3 linked regions of the Homo sapiens genome follow. The protein of the gene in region 3 purifies or fractionates together with the protein of the main gene of each other region. This does not show direct contact. Each region holds a gene or a part of one and is shown on either strand. Other genes may lie near its edges.

Region 1 (5,427 bases), on a different chromosome or scaffold from region 3:
ATTGGCTGGCGTTTTTCAGTAAGGACAGCATCTTGGCTTGGGATTGGGTGAGCAACTTAAACACTGGATTCAGACTCCAGCTCACCAGCTCCTGTTTGGGCAATCCAAGACTCACTTCCAAAACAGGAATGTTGACAACAGTACTCACCCCACCAAGCTGAGGTGAGATAAAGCATATTAAATAGCTCTTTACAAACGTCATTTGTAGTCACTGGAGAAAGCCATGTCCTGCTGAGCTCTCTACTCTCAAATGTTGATGCCCAAAGTTTGCCACCCCATGGCCAGTGGCACTGGGAAGGTCCCATGGGCAGTGTCAAGGAGAAGTGGGTTGCAACACAATTGCTTAATACTTCTGAAAGAGGCTATTATTTTGCCTAAACTTTATGATTTGCTGTGATCTGGAGAGAGGTGGGACCCCTGAACACTGGAGTCTACCCAGAATTCCTTTTACTTCTAAAAGTTTTTGCAGCCATACATAGGTATTAAATCATTTCTTGGATCAAAACTATCATTATCCTGGTTCCTTGTAGATGTACTGTTACATTTACATCCAAAACATAAAATACACTCATGATCTCAGAGGTGGCAGTTTTGGGGCAGCATCTTTGTGTATCATTTAACTGTAAAATGAACAATCATCTTTCCGAAGAGTAGGAGAATGAGGACTTCATGAAACCATCACACAAGAGCACACTTTGAGATGTGGGATTTCATGATGGTAAAATCGACCTTCCTTAGGAGGTACGTGGGAAGGAAACTAGAAAGGTTGGCGCAGTTACATTTCATACCTTGGTTAAATAAATCATGCGGTCTATTTCTTAACCAACTGGCACAACTGCAACCCTCTTTCCATTCTTCTTAACAGGATCTGTTCCTCATTTGCAGTCTTTATTTCTCTACACACCTGTTTTCCCCAAAGTCTTAGAACTGCAAGAGGAGCCTGGCTTGGCCGTGCTGGTTATCCCATCGTCTTCACGTTAGCGCTTGTCTCGGTGTAGCCCACCGTGTCTCCTCCAGTGTCCCCTGCAACTTCCCCCGCAGTGTCCCTGCTTCTGTGGAAGCCTCTCGGCCTGGACTTCCTTGCGAGCAGCAGTTTAAAGGCCGCCGCTCTGTACTTCTTTGAAATGAGGTTGTAGAGGATTGGGTTGATAGATGCGCTCAGATAGAAAAGTTGCAGAGCGACGATGTTAAAGTACTGAGAGAAGTACATCATCCGCGAATCTTCCGTGTTTATGTAAATGATTCTGCCAACGTGGAAGGGCAACCAGCAAATTATAAATGCCAGAACCACCACCACTGCAACATAAGACACAGCACCGGGATTAACAAAAGCATTGGGAAGCAAATAAACCCCCCACCCCGACAAGGAACCATCTGCAATAACAAGTAACAGCAAAATAAATTAGAGAAAACTTCTACCTAGGCAGATCCTCACCCCAGAAAAAATGACCAGGCTGCAGGCTGCATGGATACTTGCTTTAAAACTGCATAGTAGGCTCCCATATGTGTTATCAAGGCTGGACATAAACCAGAAGGAGCAATTTCTCTGAACAAGCCGCCTTGGCAGGCTTCCTTCCACAAACCCACTTCGGAGACAAGTTTTCTGTTCTCTGTTGAAAAGAATTCTACAACAGGTCTGCACAATCTTTACTTTTTGATACGAGCAAGGTTTACTTTAGCCTTCAGCATCACTTAACATTAAATAAAAAATTTTAGCTTAATGAAATCTCCCTCGTCTTCTCAAGAGCACTGTGAGGACTCCTCATCTGTGGCATCTAACAGGTGGTTGGATTAAGAATTACCAACTCTCCTTTCTGGTCTCAGAGGCTCTGGAAAAGCACTGCTGGTTACTGAATCGGATCCGGGGATCCCACCCTCAAAGCGCCCTGGGGTCCCCCAGAGCTCCTGGGGGACAGGACATGGTTTTCTCGGGGGATGGGAAGTACCGGCGGGTGGAGGCTGGAATCGAAATAGGAAAGGGAGCTGGAAGCGGCGCCCAGAGCTGGGCGAGCAGGGGAAGGGGACCCAGCGTTTGCGCGGTCCCCGGCGGGGCGGACTGCAGGCAGGCGTCTTTGGAACCACGGCGGCTCCACTTACGCAGGACGCGGACGGTCTGCCGGTGGCCTCTCTCCCGCCCCGAGGCGGCCGGGCCTCGCAGCGGCCGCCGGCTGCTCCACAGCTCCCGCCCGATGAGCCCGTAGAGGATGCTGAGGCACAGAAAGGGCAGGAAGAAGTAGGCGGTGGTGACCCACAGCATGACACGCAGCGCGCCCAGCTGCGCGGGGCTCGGCCGGCATTCGCGGCTGAACAGCGCCGCGGCCTCCGCGGTCTCGGGCCCCGACGGCGGGGACGGCGGTGGCGCCCGCGAGAGCCAGAGAGGCGGCGACGAGGCGAGAGGCGAGGAGGCGATCCGCGCGGTGCCATTGAGGCCCGGGACTACGGAGATGCCGGGGTCCTGCTCGACGCCCACCAGGAACAAGAAGGGACCGGCAGAGAGCAGCGCCACGGCCCAGAGCACAGCGATGAGCGCGCGGACGCGGCGCCGGGTGACCAAGACGCGGGCGCGGAGCGGGCGGCAGATGGCCAGGTAGCGCTCGACGCTGAGCGCGGTCATGTGCAGCAGCGTGGCGTAGGTGCAGCCCTCGCCCACGTAGAGGGACAGGCGGCAGAGCAGCGGCCCGAACACCCAGGGCCGCGAGCGCCAGAGGCGGTACAGGTCGAACGGCAGCCCGAGCAGGATGAGTAGGTCGGACACGGCCATGCTGCCCAGGTACAAGTTGGTGGTGGTCCGCATGTCCCGGTAGCGCCCGATCAGCATCACGGTCACCACGTTGCCGCTCACCCCGACGACGAACAGGCACAGGCACACAGCGGTCACCGGCACCAGCGCCCCCAGGGGAAAGGGCGAGCAGCGGCGCTCGTCGCAAGGCGGCAGCGCGGGCCACGGCGGCTCCCGCGCCCCCTCGGGGCCGTCGCTGCCGTTCCAGGGGCTGCCCATGGGTGCTCCGCGCGGCCGCCGCGTCCCGGGTCGGGCTGGGAGCCTGGCGCGTGGTCCCTCTCGGTGAGCGCCTCCTTTCCCAGCCCGCACGCTGCGGGCGCGGCAGGTCAGACGGCGGAGCGCTGCGCTGCGCTGCGGGGCGCGAGAAGCGGCTCTGCGGGGTGGGCTCCGAGGCGCTCCCGAGCTAGCTGCGCGCAGTCTCCGCCCACGGCCGCGGCCCGCCCCGGCCCGGCCCTGCTCCGCTCCCGCGCCCTCTCCCGGGCCCATGCAGTTCCAGGGCGCTTCCCTCTCCACTAACTGGAATACCCGGCGCCCTTAGCGCACGAGCCCTACCCGGTCCGGTGAGCGATGTCTGCACCCTAGACAGCTTTGGTTACAGGACTGAGCACTGTACGGGCGCTTTTGTCAGTCTGGTACTCCGGGCACCTTCGAAGGGATCTGGTCTGGTGGCTGGTAGCTGCCGCTTGACGGTGGAGGAGGGCTCATGGTAATCCTCAGGAAGCCATAATGCTAAATAATAGGAGGGGAGTCTAGACCAGAATCTAGAGCCTCTCCTGTCTAATCCTGGCTCTACAACCGAGTAACTTGTGTAATCTTGGGCTAGTCCTGGTCTCGCCCAGCCCAGTTCTCCTCTTCTGTAAATTCGCGAGTGGTGGAGGGAGCTGACCATATAATTGACCAAATAATTTCTTTTTTTTCTTTTTTTCTTTCTTTCTTTCTTTTTTTCTTCTTGAGACAGGGTCTCACTGTCGTCCAGGCTGGAGTTTAAGTGGCGCGATCACAGCTCACTGCAGCCTCGACCTCCCAGGCTCAAGCAGTCCTCCCACCTCAGCCTCCTGAGTAGCTGGGAGCACAGGAGCGCCCAAGCCCCGGCTAAATTTTGTGTTTTTTGTGTAGTCAGGGTTTCGCCATGTTGGCCAGCCTGGTCTCGAACTCCTGACCCCAGGTGGTCCACCCGCCTCGACCTCCCAAAGTGCTGGGATTACAGGCGTGAGCCACCGCGCCCGGCAGTGACCAGATAATTTCAAGGATCCGTGAGCATGTTTACTTATTATAAAGAACAAGACAAATATTTACGTGGACACTAGAGTACTTTCACATGTGATATGTCATTCTTATGTACAACATGTTTTATAAACTTAAAAAACTAGAGGATTTGTCAACACCGGAAAGAACGAAAATTGGGGAAAGGGGCTAAAACGGATGTTCAGTCTGTTCGGTGTGGTCTTAATAACAATAGCTAACACTTACTGAGAATTTAGATGGATCTGGCCCTGTGCTCTCCATTTAATCCTCATGGCCCGGGGCGCTCCTTTCGCCCATGAACAAAGCGGTCTTGCTTGAGATCAAGCAGGCAGTAAGAGGCGGGACTGGGATATGGGCTCTGGTCGGCCTAATCCCAGAGCTTGCAAGCCTGACGTCCTACTCACTGCCCAGCTCCACCCCCTCAGTGGCTTAAATCCTCAACCTCTTCTCTGGAGTCTCGATTCTGGACCTGACACCTGGCTTTGCCTAGGGCAAGCTTCTCCTGCAGTTCTCTCTCACATGCAGACTGTGAGCTTGGAGGAGGGACACCTGTCGCCTCCCTCATCGCTGCTGTTTCCAGCGGTCCTAAAACCGCCCTCCCTAGCGCTTTCCTCCGTGGTCACCCGTAGTCCCTGAGGGACAGGTGCCTGCGCTCTCTTTGAAGCACTGCATCTGCGGCCGTTCACACCCATGCCGAGTCTTGGAATGCCTTGGCCTCTAGTTTGTTGACCTCCTTTCCACCTATGACCTTGCTCTCCACCCGATCTCAGCCGCGCCTGTCGACGGAACTTACACCTCACGGTTGCCTGCCAGCCTTCCTCCACCTCCACTTCAGTCAGCCCTCTTTCTGACCTCCGCCCGCTCTCTTTTTAGCTCTCTTCCCCTAGCACCTCAGTTCCGGTAATCCTTCAACCCACTGCGACCTCCATCGCTGGCTCCTCCTTCCTTTTCCCGGTCCCTTGCCTGCCCCAGGTCTTCACTTTCTTCCTTTACCCAACGTAAATTCCACGGGCAGTCGCCATCACTCCCACACAGACGCCCTCGACTCCCTTGCTCTTTTCTCCATTGTCAGCCTCGTCCATCCACCAAGAGCACCACAACCCTGGTGAAGCCGAATTCCCTGCCTACTCCTTGCCTGCTCTCACATGGCGTTGTTTCACTTGAAAGCACAACCTCTAGCGGGGTGCTTCGTTCCCCCGGCCTTCCCAACTCTCACCTGACCTCATTCACTCTCCCACCACCAGGCTGCTGGTTTATACCCCCTCCTCTCTCCTTAGACCCAACACCCACCACCCCTTCCTTTGGGAGGTTTCCTTGCACCCTGTTTCTCTGAAGATAACTACCACACCCCCACCTCTGCTCGTGCTCCCCTGGGACAGTTGGTGGTACTTGCAGCTGAAGTC
Region 2 (4,902 bases), on a different chromosome or scaffold from region 3:
AGGATGCCGCTGGGGCAGTCCTTCAGGAAGCCCTTGTACCACTGCTTCAGCTCCTGCTCGCTGAACTCAGTGTTCTGAACAAGGTCCTCCAGCACCTCGGGGGCCAGCTTGCTGTTGGTCTTCCCCATGGCGGGGCCTGTGGGACAGAGGGATTCCTCCGACTGGGTCCAGGGAAAGGCCCTGCCTCAGCCACAGCTGCCCCCTCCCCTGCCACACACAGGGCGGGGTTGCAGGTTCCTTCCCCTCATGACACTCCCCCATAATGGGGCCTCCTCTCCCCTCACAACACCTGCATTCAGGTAGGTTTCTTCTCCTAGCCCCGGGGGTCTCCCGCCTTCCAGGTCTCAGCTCTCCTCCTCACTGACCGTGCAGCACGCCACAGTCTTCATCCTCTCCCCTCCTGCTCACACCTTTCATGGCTCCCCTGCCCACAGACTAAGGCCTTGACTCCTCTCCTTGCCATTTAGGGCTTTCTGAAGTCAGCCCCCACCCTCCTTGGCAGGCTTCTGTCCTGAGAAGGGACCCAAGGTAGGTTCCTTGTGTGTCCCCTTGGCACTGTCTCCCAATTTCTTCCTCAAGGCTTTCTTGGGCCACCCCAGCAGGGAGCTTCTCTCCCTCTTTCCTCTATACAAATAGAAATCCTCTACTGACATTTGGCTTTTCATTAATCCATTCATTCCCTGAGCATTTATTGAGACTGACTGTGTGCTAGGCCCTGTGCCAGTGATGGAGATGAAGCAGACATGAGCCAACCTTCAATAACTTGTAACTGGGTCAAAGAGGCAGATGGTTGGTTACAAAGGGCCTCCAATCCATGCCAAGAAATTGGAGGGAACAGACGCTCCTGGGATTTTTTAAAACAAGGGCTGGGAAGATTGCATTCATTCCACAATATTTACAGAATGCTTATGATATACCCAGTCTTGAACGAGTCACTGGGGACCCAAGAAAAGGTATGTGTTTTAAAATTTTTCCAGGCTGGGCACCGTATTTCATGCCTATAATCCCAGTACCTTGGGAGGCTGAGATGAGAGGACAGCTTGAGGCCAGGAGTTTGAGACCAGCCTAGGCAATACAGTGACACCTAGTCTCTACAAAAAATTTAAAAATTTGGCTGGGCGCGGCCGGGCACGGTGGCTCACACCTGTAATCCCAGCACTTTGGGAGGCCAAGGTGGGTGGATCACGAAGTCAGGTGATCAAGACCATCCTGGCTAACACGGTGAAACCCTGTCTCTACTACAAATACAAAAAAATTAGCTGGGCGTCGTGGCAGGCGCCTGTAGTCCCAGCTACTCGGGAGGCTGAGGCAGGAGAATGGCGTCAACCCAGGAGGGAGAGCATGCAGTGAGCTGAGATCGCGCCACTGCACTCCAACCTGGGTGACACAGTGAGACTCCACCTCAAAAAAAAAAAAAATATATTGGCCGGGCGCAGTGGCTCACGCCTGTAATCCCAGCACTTTGAGAGGCTGAGGCAGGTGGATCACGAGGTCAGGAGATCAAGACCATCCTGGCTAACACAGTGAAACCCCATCTCTACTAAAAATACAAAAAATTAGCCAGGCATGGTGGCGGGCGCCAGTAGTCCCAGCTACTTGGGAGGCTGAGGCAGGAGAATGGCATCAACCCCAGAGGCGGAGCTTGCGGTGAGCCGAGATCGCTCCACTGCACTCCAGCCTGGGCGACAGAGTGAGACTCCGTCTCAAAAAAAAAAAAAAAAAAAAATTCACTGAGTGTGGTGGTGCATGCCTGTAGTCCCAGATACTTGGGAGGCTAAGATGGGAGGATCACTTGAGCCTGGGAGGCAGGGGTTGCAGTGAGCTGAGATGGCACCACTGTACTACAGCCTGGGCGATAAAGAAAGGCCCTGTCTCAAAAAAGAAAAAAAAGAATTTTTCCTTTGGCCACAGCATGCAAGATGACCTTTGGTGGGGGCAGGTAGGTAGAGCAGGGAGGGGCCTGCTACACGGTTCAGGTGAGAGACAATGCTGCCAGAGTAAGGGTCGTGGAGAGACGTGGATGGGCTGAGACGTTAAGAAGGGCACTGGCAGGACTTTGCAGTTGATTGGATGTGGGAGTAAGAGGAACAGAGGAGTTGAGGCAGAGGCTCAGATTTGAGCCTCAGTGGATAGAAGTGTTGTTGCTGAGAAGCAGGTTTGGGAAGGATCAAGAGTTATTCCCCAGTGGGAATGTGAGCCCGTAAGTGGGCTGTGCCAGGGGAAGTGTTTGAAGAGGTACAGGCCCTCCTCAGGAAGTGTGGCCAGACCTTGAAGGCAGAGTGGACCCTCCTCTCTGACCTCCCTGGGAGGAATGTCCCTGCAGAGTCTGGGTTTCCCAGGACATGGCTTGGGAGGTGCCTCTGACCTGCCTAGAGTCTCTTTGGAAGAGGGTCAGGCTCCCACCCCAGGTAGCCTGTCCTCAAGATACTCTGGAAAAGGAAGCCCTTGGGCTGGCAGAAGGAATTCCACTCCCATAGCCCGATGTCTGCCAGTGGGCTTCTAATTCTTACAACTGGGAAAACACTAAATAGCAAATCTGAGGTTGGTCCATTCCTTCCCACTCCCCTTTGCTGGGCTGACCTCAGGCTAGTTACAGATCCTCTCTGGGCCTCAGATTCCTCCACTGGGCCATAAGGAAGACCAAGGAGCAGTGCAGGTAGCAACATCCTTCCCCACTCCCAGAGGATGAGGAATTGTATGCCCTCAGGAAAAGCCAGGGAGGGGGAGCATGCCATCTTCAGGAACCTGAGGCTGGGCGGAAAATGGCTACACTGAGGCCAGAGCAAGGATGCCTCTGGAACACCCATAGGCAAAAGGAGGCAGGCCTCACCCCTCTCCCAAATCCAAAGGACTCTCAAGGCTCAGGGTATAGTCAAGGAAGCTGGAGAAGTCAGGCAGAGATGTCTGATGGGGGGAGGCACAGCCTCTCCAGCTGTCTTCCGTAGGATGTGCCTGAGAGTCAGCATGAGGGGCTGGGTCTGTGTGTGGGAGCATGTCAATGTCTGAGGCTGCAAATCTGTCAGAGTGCACACGTCTCTCTGTGTGTGTCACAGTGTCTGTGTGGCTCTCACCTTATACCCCTTTTCTCCTCCCTGCTCTGTGCTGCCTTCTCCACAATTCTCTGTCTCCTAGGGTCCTTCCTGTTCCCTGCTTTTATTGGGTCTCAGACCCAGACTATGCCTCCTCCTTTATTTCTCCTCATTCCCTCTAGATCATCAGAAGGTCAAAGCTGAGCCTGGGCAAGATAAGGAAACCCTGTTTCTACATAAAATTTAAAAATTAGCCAGACATGGTAGCATGTGCCTGTAGTCCCAGCTGCTCAGAAGCTGAGGTGGGAGGATCACTTGAGCCCAGGAGGTTGAGGCTGCAGTGAGCCGTGATTGAGCCACTGCACTCGAGCCTGGGCAACAGAGCAAGACCCTGTCTCAAAAAAAAAATAAGTAAATAAAAAATTAAGAAAAGAAGGTCAAAACTGGCCGTGCCCTTTAAGATCATCCCCTTATTTCAGTGAAAATGGAAATTGAGAGATAGGAGAAAACTGGCTCAGGGTTACACAGCAGGTCAGTGGGAGGGCCCAGATGAGCACTCAGGCTGAATCCGTGCTACCTGCCTGGGCCACCGTCTCCAAATCATGGCTACTCTTGTTCAGCACAGACCTTCTCCACCCACATCTGCCCTCTGGGAAAATCAGAGCTCTGATCTCCCTTTTGGCCGCAGTGGAACCATCTGGGGCCACAATCTCTGACACCCAGGAGATAGCCACCCTAGGGGTGTCCACCAGCACCTCTGAGACAGCAAGTCTACAGCCAGACTCGCTCCCAACCAGAGATGGTCAGACTGTCTCTGTTGCCCCTTCCTTCTCTCCCTCATCCCCGGGGTGTGGGGAACACAATCTTAGTTACCTTCATTTTTTCCCTTCCCTTTGCCCTAGGTCTAACTTGCCATCAAGTCCTGTTGTCTCTTATTTTGAAATGCTCTTGGTACCTTCATTATGTCCATAGCCAGGGACACAGCCGAGGGGGCTGAAATCAAGCTATGCTCATGCCCATGGGGCTTCCCTGCCTGGCAGGAAGTGCCTTTCTTTTGATTCCTCTGTTAGGAGGGAATGGCTTTTTCCCCCCGAAAGTTACAATATAGACTAGAAGTAGCCATGCCCATGGGCCCCCTGAAACTCTAGAATCCTCTAGAATCTGGTCTCAAAGTGCCCACCTATCTCGCCTCAGCTCTCATTGCTCACTCACCACCGCATACTCCTCTCAAGCCAGCCTTCTCACAGCCAGACACGCCTCACCTCTTTGCTAAGCTATTTTCCTCTCCCCTAATATCCTTTCTTCTCTCCTGGACTATAATCAGTCTTCAGGGCCTGGTTGAAGCCTGCTTCCTTATGATCAGCCTTTTCCAGTCTGGACAGTGGAGAGTCAGCAGCCCAAGCTCAGCACTTTGGGCATGAGTCAGTCCCCCACAGGCGTGTAGACTTCATAGCCCTCTGACCCTCACCTGGTGCTGTAGAATTCCAGGATGCAGTCTGATTTGAGACAGGTCTTTGCATTAAACCCCTGCCTGAGTCAGAAAAAAAATCCTCCAGACCTTTTTGCTCAATGGCAAGGAGTTGATCCCCTCCAATATGCCCCAGTCCACTTTTGAGCAGGTTGAAGCGTGAGAAAAGTTTATTTTTCCCATGGGGAAAATAAAAGTGCTTTTCCCTATGCACTCACTTCTCCCAGTGAGTGCTTAGTCCTCACTGAGTCTGGGACCCATGAGAGCAGGGGTTTTTTCTCTCTTATAGCTCCCCTACCCTGGTTCCCACCCTGCCTTCTGTGCCTGCACAGAACTGCTCTGTGGAGACGCAGTGGCAATGCCTAGGACACAGTGATGTTCAATGAATGTCTCTTGGTGGATTAC
Region 3 (4,902 bases):
GCTTTAGTCTAATATCGCCTACAAACCCACTGTTATTTAGAATTGCATGTTATCAATTGTATCCATAATTTGTATTATTGGAATAGAATTATATCTTTAACTATAGTCTAGGCAAATTTATATATTCTTCACGGCAAGCACAGACGTGTTTCAGCATGGCCAGTTAATTCTTTCAGCCTGGTCTACTGAGGATGGCTAGGACTGCTGTCCTAACACAAAAGAAACTGACAACAGCTAATTTCCTCTAATTGATTTGACTGTGTTACTCATGAAACAAGTGAATGATATTATTAAGTTAATAAGTTAACCATTTAATTTAGAATAAGGCCAGTGTCAAAAGTGACATAAAAGAAGTAATTCAAACAGTTTTATGGTCTCATATTACATGGCTACACAGTTTCACTCAGTCTCTGCCACAAAAAGCTGCAATGATTTCACCGTCTGAAAATGAAATTCATTTGTGTAAGAATATATCCATAAATACATATTCTGTTATATATTTATACAAAGGCTCTTGAAGGAAAGTGTTGTAAACATGCCTGAAAATTATAATGGCTTTACACCTAGTAAAATGTAAATGACAGCTTATCAATTTTGGTCAAAAGTTTTCTTGAGCCTATGGTAAAAATGTGAACGCGAGCAAAGAATCAATCCAGATCAATACGTCAGTTTAAAAGAAAAAAAGTGACTATTGACATATCTGCATTCTGTTTTTTACTTTTTACTTTTATTTCAATAGTAAATTTATGCATTTTCTTTCCCAAAATGATTTAAATATAAATCTGATTCCCCATCTATGTTTGCACCGTCATTCAGTAATTGCTGGTGCTTTTACAATTCACAGGCACATGAAAATCTTCAACAGCCCCAGCAACTCCAGCACCTTCACTGGCTTCATCCTCCTGGGCTTCCCTTGCCCCAGGGAGGGGCAGATCCTCCTCTTTGTGCTCTTCACTGTTGTTTACCTCCTGACCCTCATGGGCAATGGTTCCATCATCTGTGCTGTGCACTGGGATCAGAGACTCCACGCCCCCATGTACATCCTGCTCGCCAACTTCTCCTTCTTGGAGATATGTTATGTCACCTCCACAGTCCCCAGCATGCTGGCCAACTTCCTCTCTGACACCAAGATCATCTCGTTCTCTGGCTGCTTCCTCCAGTTCTACTTTTTCTTCTCCTTGGGCTCTACAGAATGCTTTTTCCTGGCAGTTATGGCATTTGATCGATACCTTGCCATCTGTCGGCCTCTACGCTATCCAACCATTATGACCAGACGTCTCTGTACCAATCTTGTGGTCAATTGCTGGGTACTTGGTTTCATCTGGTTCTTGATTCCTATCGTCAACATCTCCCAAATGTCCTTCTGTGGATCTAGGATTATTGACCACTTCCTATGTGACCCAGCTCCTCTTCTAACTCTCACTTGCAAAAAAGGCCCTGTGATAGAGCTTGTCTTTTCTGTCTTAAGTCCTCTGCCTGTCTTTATGCTCTTTCTCTTCATTGTGGGGTCCTATGCTCTGGTCGTGAGAGCTGTGTTGAGGGTCCCTTCAGCAGCTGGGAGAAGAAAGGCTTTCTCCACCTGTGGGTCTCACCTGGCTGTGGTTTCACTGTTCTACGGCTCAGTACTGGTCATGTATGGGAGCCCACCATCTAAGAATGAAGCTGGAAAGCAGAAGACTGTGACTCTGTTTTATTCTGTTGTTACCCCACTGCTTAACCCTGTGATATATAGTCTTAGGAACAAAGATATGAGAAAAGCTCTGAAGAAATTTTGGGGAACATAAAATGTTAATCAAAAAGGTCCTTGCGTAATTAATCTTGTCTTTAATTTTGGGGTTTAAAAAAAAAACTGGTCTTGGCCAGGCGCGGTGGCTTACGCCTGTAATCCCAGCACTTTGGGAGCCCGAGGCGGGTGGATCACGAGGTCAGGAGATCAAGACCACCCTGGCTAACACGGTGAAACCCTGTCTCTACTAAAAAATACAAAAAATTAGCCGGGCGTGGTGGCGGACGCCTGTAGTCCCAGCTACTCGGGAGGCTGAGGCAGGAGAATGGCGTGAACCCGGGAGGCGGAGCTTGCAGTGAGCCGAGATCGCGCCACTGCACTCAAGCCTGGGCGACAGAGCGAGACTCTGTCTCAGGAAAAAAAAAAAAAAAAAACTGGTCTTATACAGTTAATTGTTCATCTTACTATTGGCCAAAGCTAAAATACCTGTGAGCATGTTTCTGTTATTTCTCCTTTCAGATCTTGATTATTTGCCCAGTTGTGTAACATGCCTCAATGTTTTTTAATTGACTGGTGGGCATTGTATTTTAAAAACTATAAAGACAATATATGCAGTAATGAAGGTTTTGTTCTAGCAAGTAGATGGAGTAGAGGCAGATCACATTGATTCTATTTAAGCACTACTTGTATGTGTTTTTAAAATGATCTGTGCTCGTTTTAGTTTTACTCTTAGGGTGTGGCTCTTACTGCAGGAACATAGCCTTTCTGAGACCTCAGGGACAAATCTGGACTGTTTAGAAGGTCCCTCCGCTTCAGCTGATCCTAGCCTCCTATTTCAGTACTTCTTGAACCCCATGACTCCTGAAACTTCCGCTTTGCTCTTTAGACTCTCAGCTTTTGTTTCTGCTAGCTATTTTGGGGTCTCACCGTGTACACACAGCTTAGAAATCCAAAAATGCCTTGAAGGGGAATTGCATCATATTTTTAGCCTAGCTTCTGTGGTCCTTCCCTCTCCAGGATTTCTCAAACGCCAGGTGCTTTGGCAACTTTCAAATTCTCTACCTTCTCAGTTCAGTAAAACTACTGCTTTCTGCTCAGTCCTTATTCCTCCTTTCCTCATACTCTCCCAACCCAGTAAATGGTCAAATATCCTCAGGGAAATACACATGGGGAATGTGAAACTCACCTCCCTTTTCTTCCCTTCATCTTGGACTGTAGCCCATGAAGGCTTGCCTATGTCAGTTGCTCTGAGTGCCTTCAAATGGTTGTTTTATGTATTTTGTCCAGATTTTACTGTTGATAGAAATTATTTTGGGTTTAGTACAAGTTTTTCAGTCATGACCAGAAAGTTTTTTCTATTCTATCTAGATTCCATACATTCTCACTTCTTCCTTCACTTTCAGGAGATTATCATGTAGCATGTGTCTTCAAAAGCCCACAAATCAGAGAGACAGGTGGATATAGAGGCTGGCATAAACACAAATCTGGGATGCACACCTGCTTTTCTTTTCATTGCAACCAGCAAAGAATCCCTGAGGACTCTTCCCCTGCAGGAAGCAGGGGAAAGGTTACCTATGGTAAAATAAATGATAAAATCAGGACCACAGATTTTGGCCTTTTTTTAATGGAAGGCACCCAGTAATTGTAGATCAGTAAAAATAGTCACCCAGAATTTGTATTAGAAGCTTGGGCTAGTTCTCCTTGAACTTTCCCCTAGGCCTGGAGTGAAAGGTCATGCTATGATTGAAGTGTCTTCACTAATCCAAATACCTGTTTTTCAGGTTAAATAAATAGGAATTGGGAATCAGGGAGCAATTTGCTGAGGATAATGACTTAATTCCAAAAAAAAAAAAAAAAAAAGTTCCTATCCACCACCCTTTTAACTAGCCCAAGTTCCCTTTGCTTTGAAAAGTAACCCTGAATTTCTCTTTAGGACTTCTCACTTATTTGCCAGTCATATCACAATAAGTTTGTTTCCTTAATATAAACGAAGCTCTGTAAAATAGTAAGAGAACAGAACAGTATCCCAGTAAGAAAATGAGCAAAAGGATATAAACGAATAACATCCAGAAAAAGATTCTTAAACATGGAAAGGGCACTAACTAATTCATAAAAAGGTAAAAGTAGAATAAGCCTATAAATATATCTCACTTTTTATCTATTAAATTGACAAAGATCAAGAAGTTTGATTACACATTGCGTGTCTGAGGATTGTGAAATGGGTTCTCTCACACTTAGCTGGTGGGCGTATCAGCTTTACAAACTCTATATAGGGTGACAAGGCAACCTCTATCAAAATTTAGAAGACACATATCCTTTAAAACAGCACCTCAACTTTTAAGTTGTTTAACCTACAGATATTTTTACACATGTGGGAAATGTTTACTGCAGCATTGTTGTAATAGCAAAATATTGAGAAAAACATCAGTTCCCATTAATAGAAGACTAGTAAAATGAGCTATGGTGAGTTATACCATGGAATATTATGTCTTCAATTTATAAACTATGAAGCAGTTCCATATGCAATGATATATAATATGTCCAAGACACACTGTTAAATGAAAAAAGCAAAGTGAATAGCAGAGTGTATTGTAGCTGCCTTCCATGGAAATGTGTATATCTCCTGAAAGAGCTCCAAAAAACTGATAACAATGGTTGCTTCAGGCAAGAAGAATTTTGTGTCTAAGGAACAAGATAGTAAAGGAGACTTTTTTTTCATAACTCCTTTTGTGCGTTCAAATTCTTTATCATGTGCCTATATTATGCATTGAAAAAATAATAAAACATATTTTGTAAAATTTTTTTATTTCCATAGGTTATTGGGGAACAGGTGATGTTTGGTTATATGAGTAAGTTCTTTAAACAAAGAACAATTTTCAATTTTTTTTTTTTTTTTTTTTTTTTGAGATGGAGTTTAGCTCCTGTTGCCCAGGCTGGAGTGCAATGGCGCCATCTCGGCTCACTGCAACCTCCACCTCCCACGTTCAAATGATTCTCCTGTCTCAGCCTCCTGAGTAGCTGGGATTACAGGTGCCCGCCACTACGCCTGGCTAATTTTTGGTATTTTTAGTAGAGATGGAGATTCACCATGTTGGCCAGGCTGGTCTCGAACTTCTGACCTCAGGTGATCCACCCACCTCGGCCTCCCAAAGTGCTGGGATTACAGGCGTGAGCCA

The links. Proteins that work in one complex are often made in the same cells at the same time.
Region 1: the proteins of OR11G2 (region 3) and MLNR purify together in Homo sapiens (affinity purification with mass spectrometry; one large-scale study listed by BioGRID and IntAct). This does not show direct contact.
Region 2: the proteins of OR11G2 (region 3) and HPCAL4 purify together in Homo sapiens (affinity purification with mass spectrometry; one large-scale study listed by BioGRID and IntAct). This does not show direct contact.

What each region holds. Positions count from the first base shown.
Region 1 is NC_000013.11:49,217,909-49,223,335, reverse strand, and holds MLNR (motilin receptor), read right to left. Parts: upstream 2,999-5,427; coding exon 2,098-2,998; intron 1,297-2,097; coding exon 959-1,296; downstream 1-958. UniProt on the Homo sapiens protein: Receptor for motilin.
Region 2 is NC_000001.11:39,684,476-39,689,377, forward strand, and holds part of HPCAL4 (hippocalcin-like protein 4), read right to left. Parts: intron 137-4,902; 5' UTR 129-136; coding exon 1-128. UniProt on the Homo sapiens protein: May be involved in the calcium-dependent regulation of rhodopsin phosphorylation.
Region 3 is NC_000014.9:20,196,590-20,201,491, forward strand, and holds the end of OR11G2 (olfactory receptor 11G2), read left to right. Parts: intron 1-844; 5' UTR 845-848; coding exon 849-1,784; 3' UTR 1,785-4,486; downstream 4,487-4,902. UniProt on the Homo sapiens protein: Odorant receptor.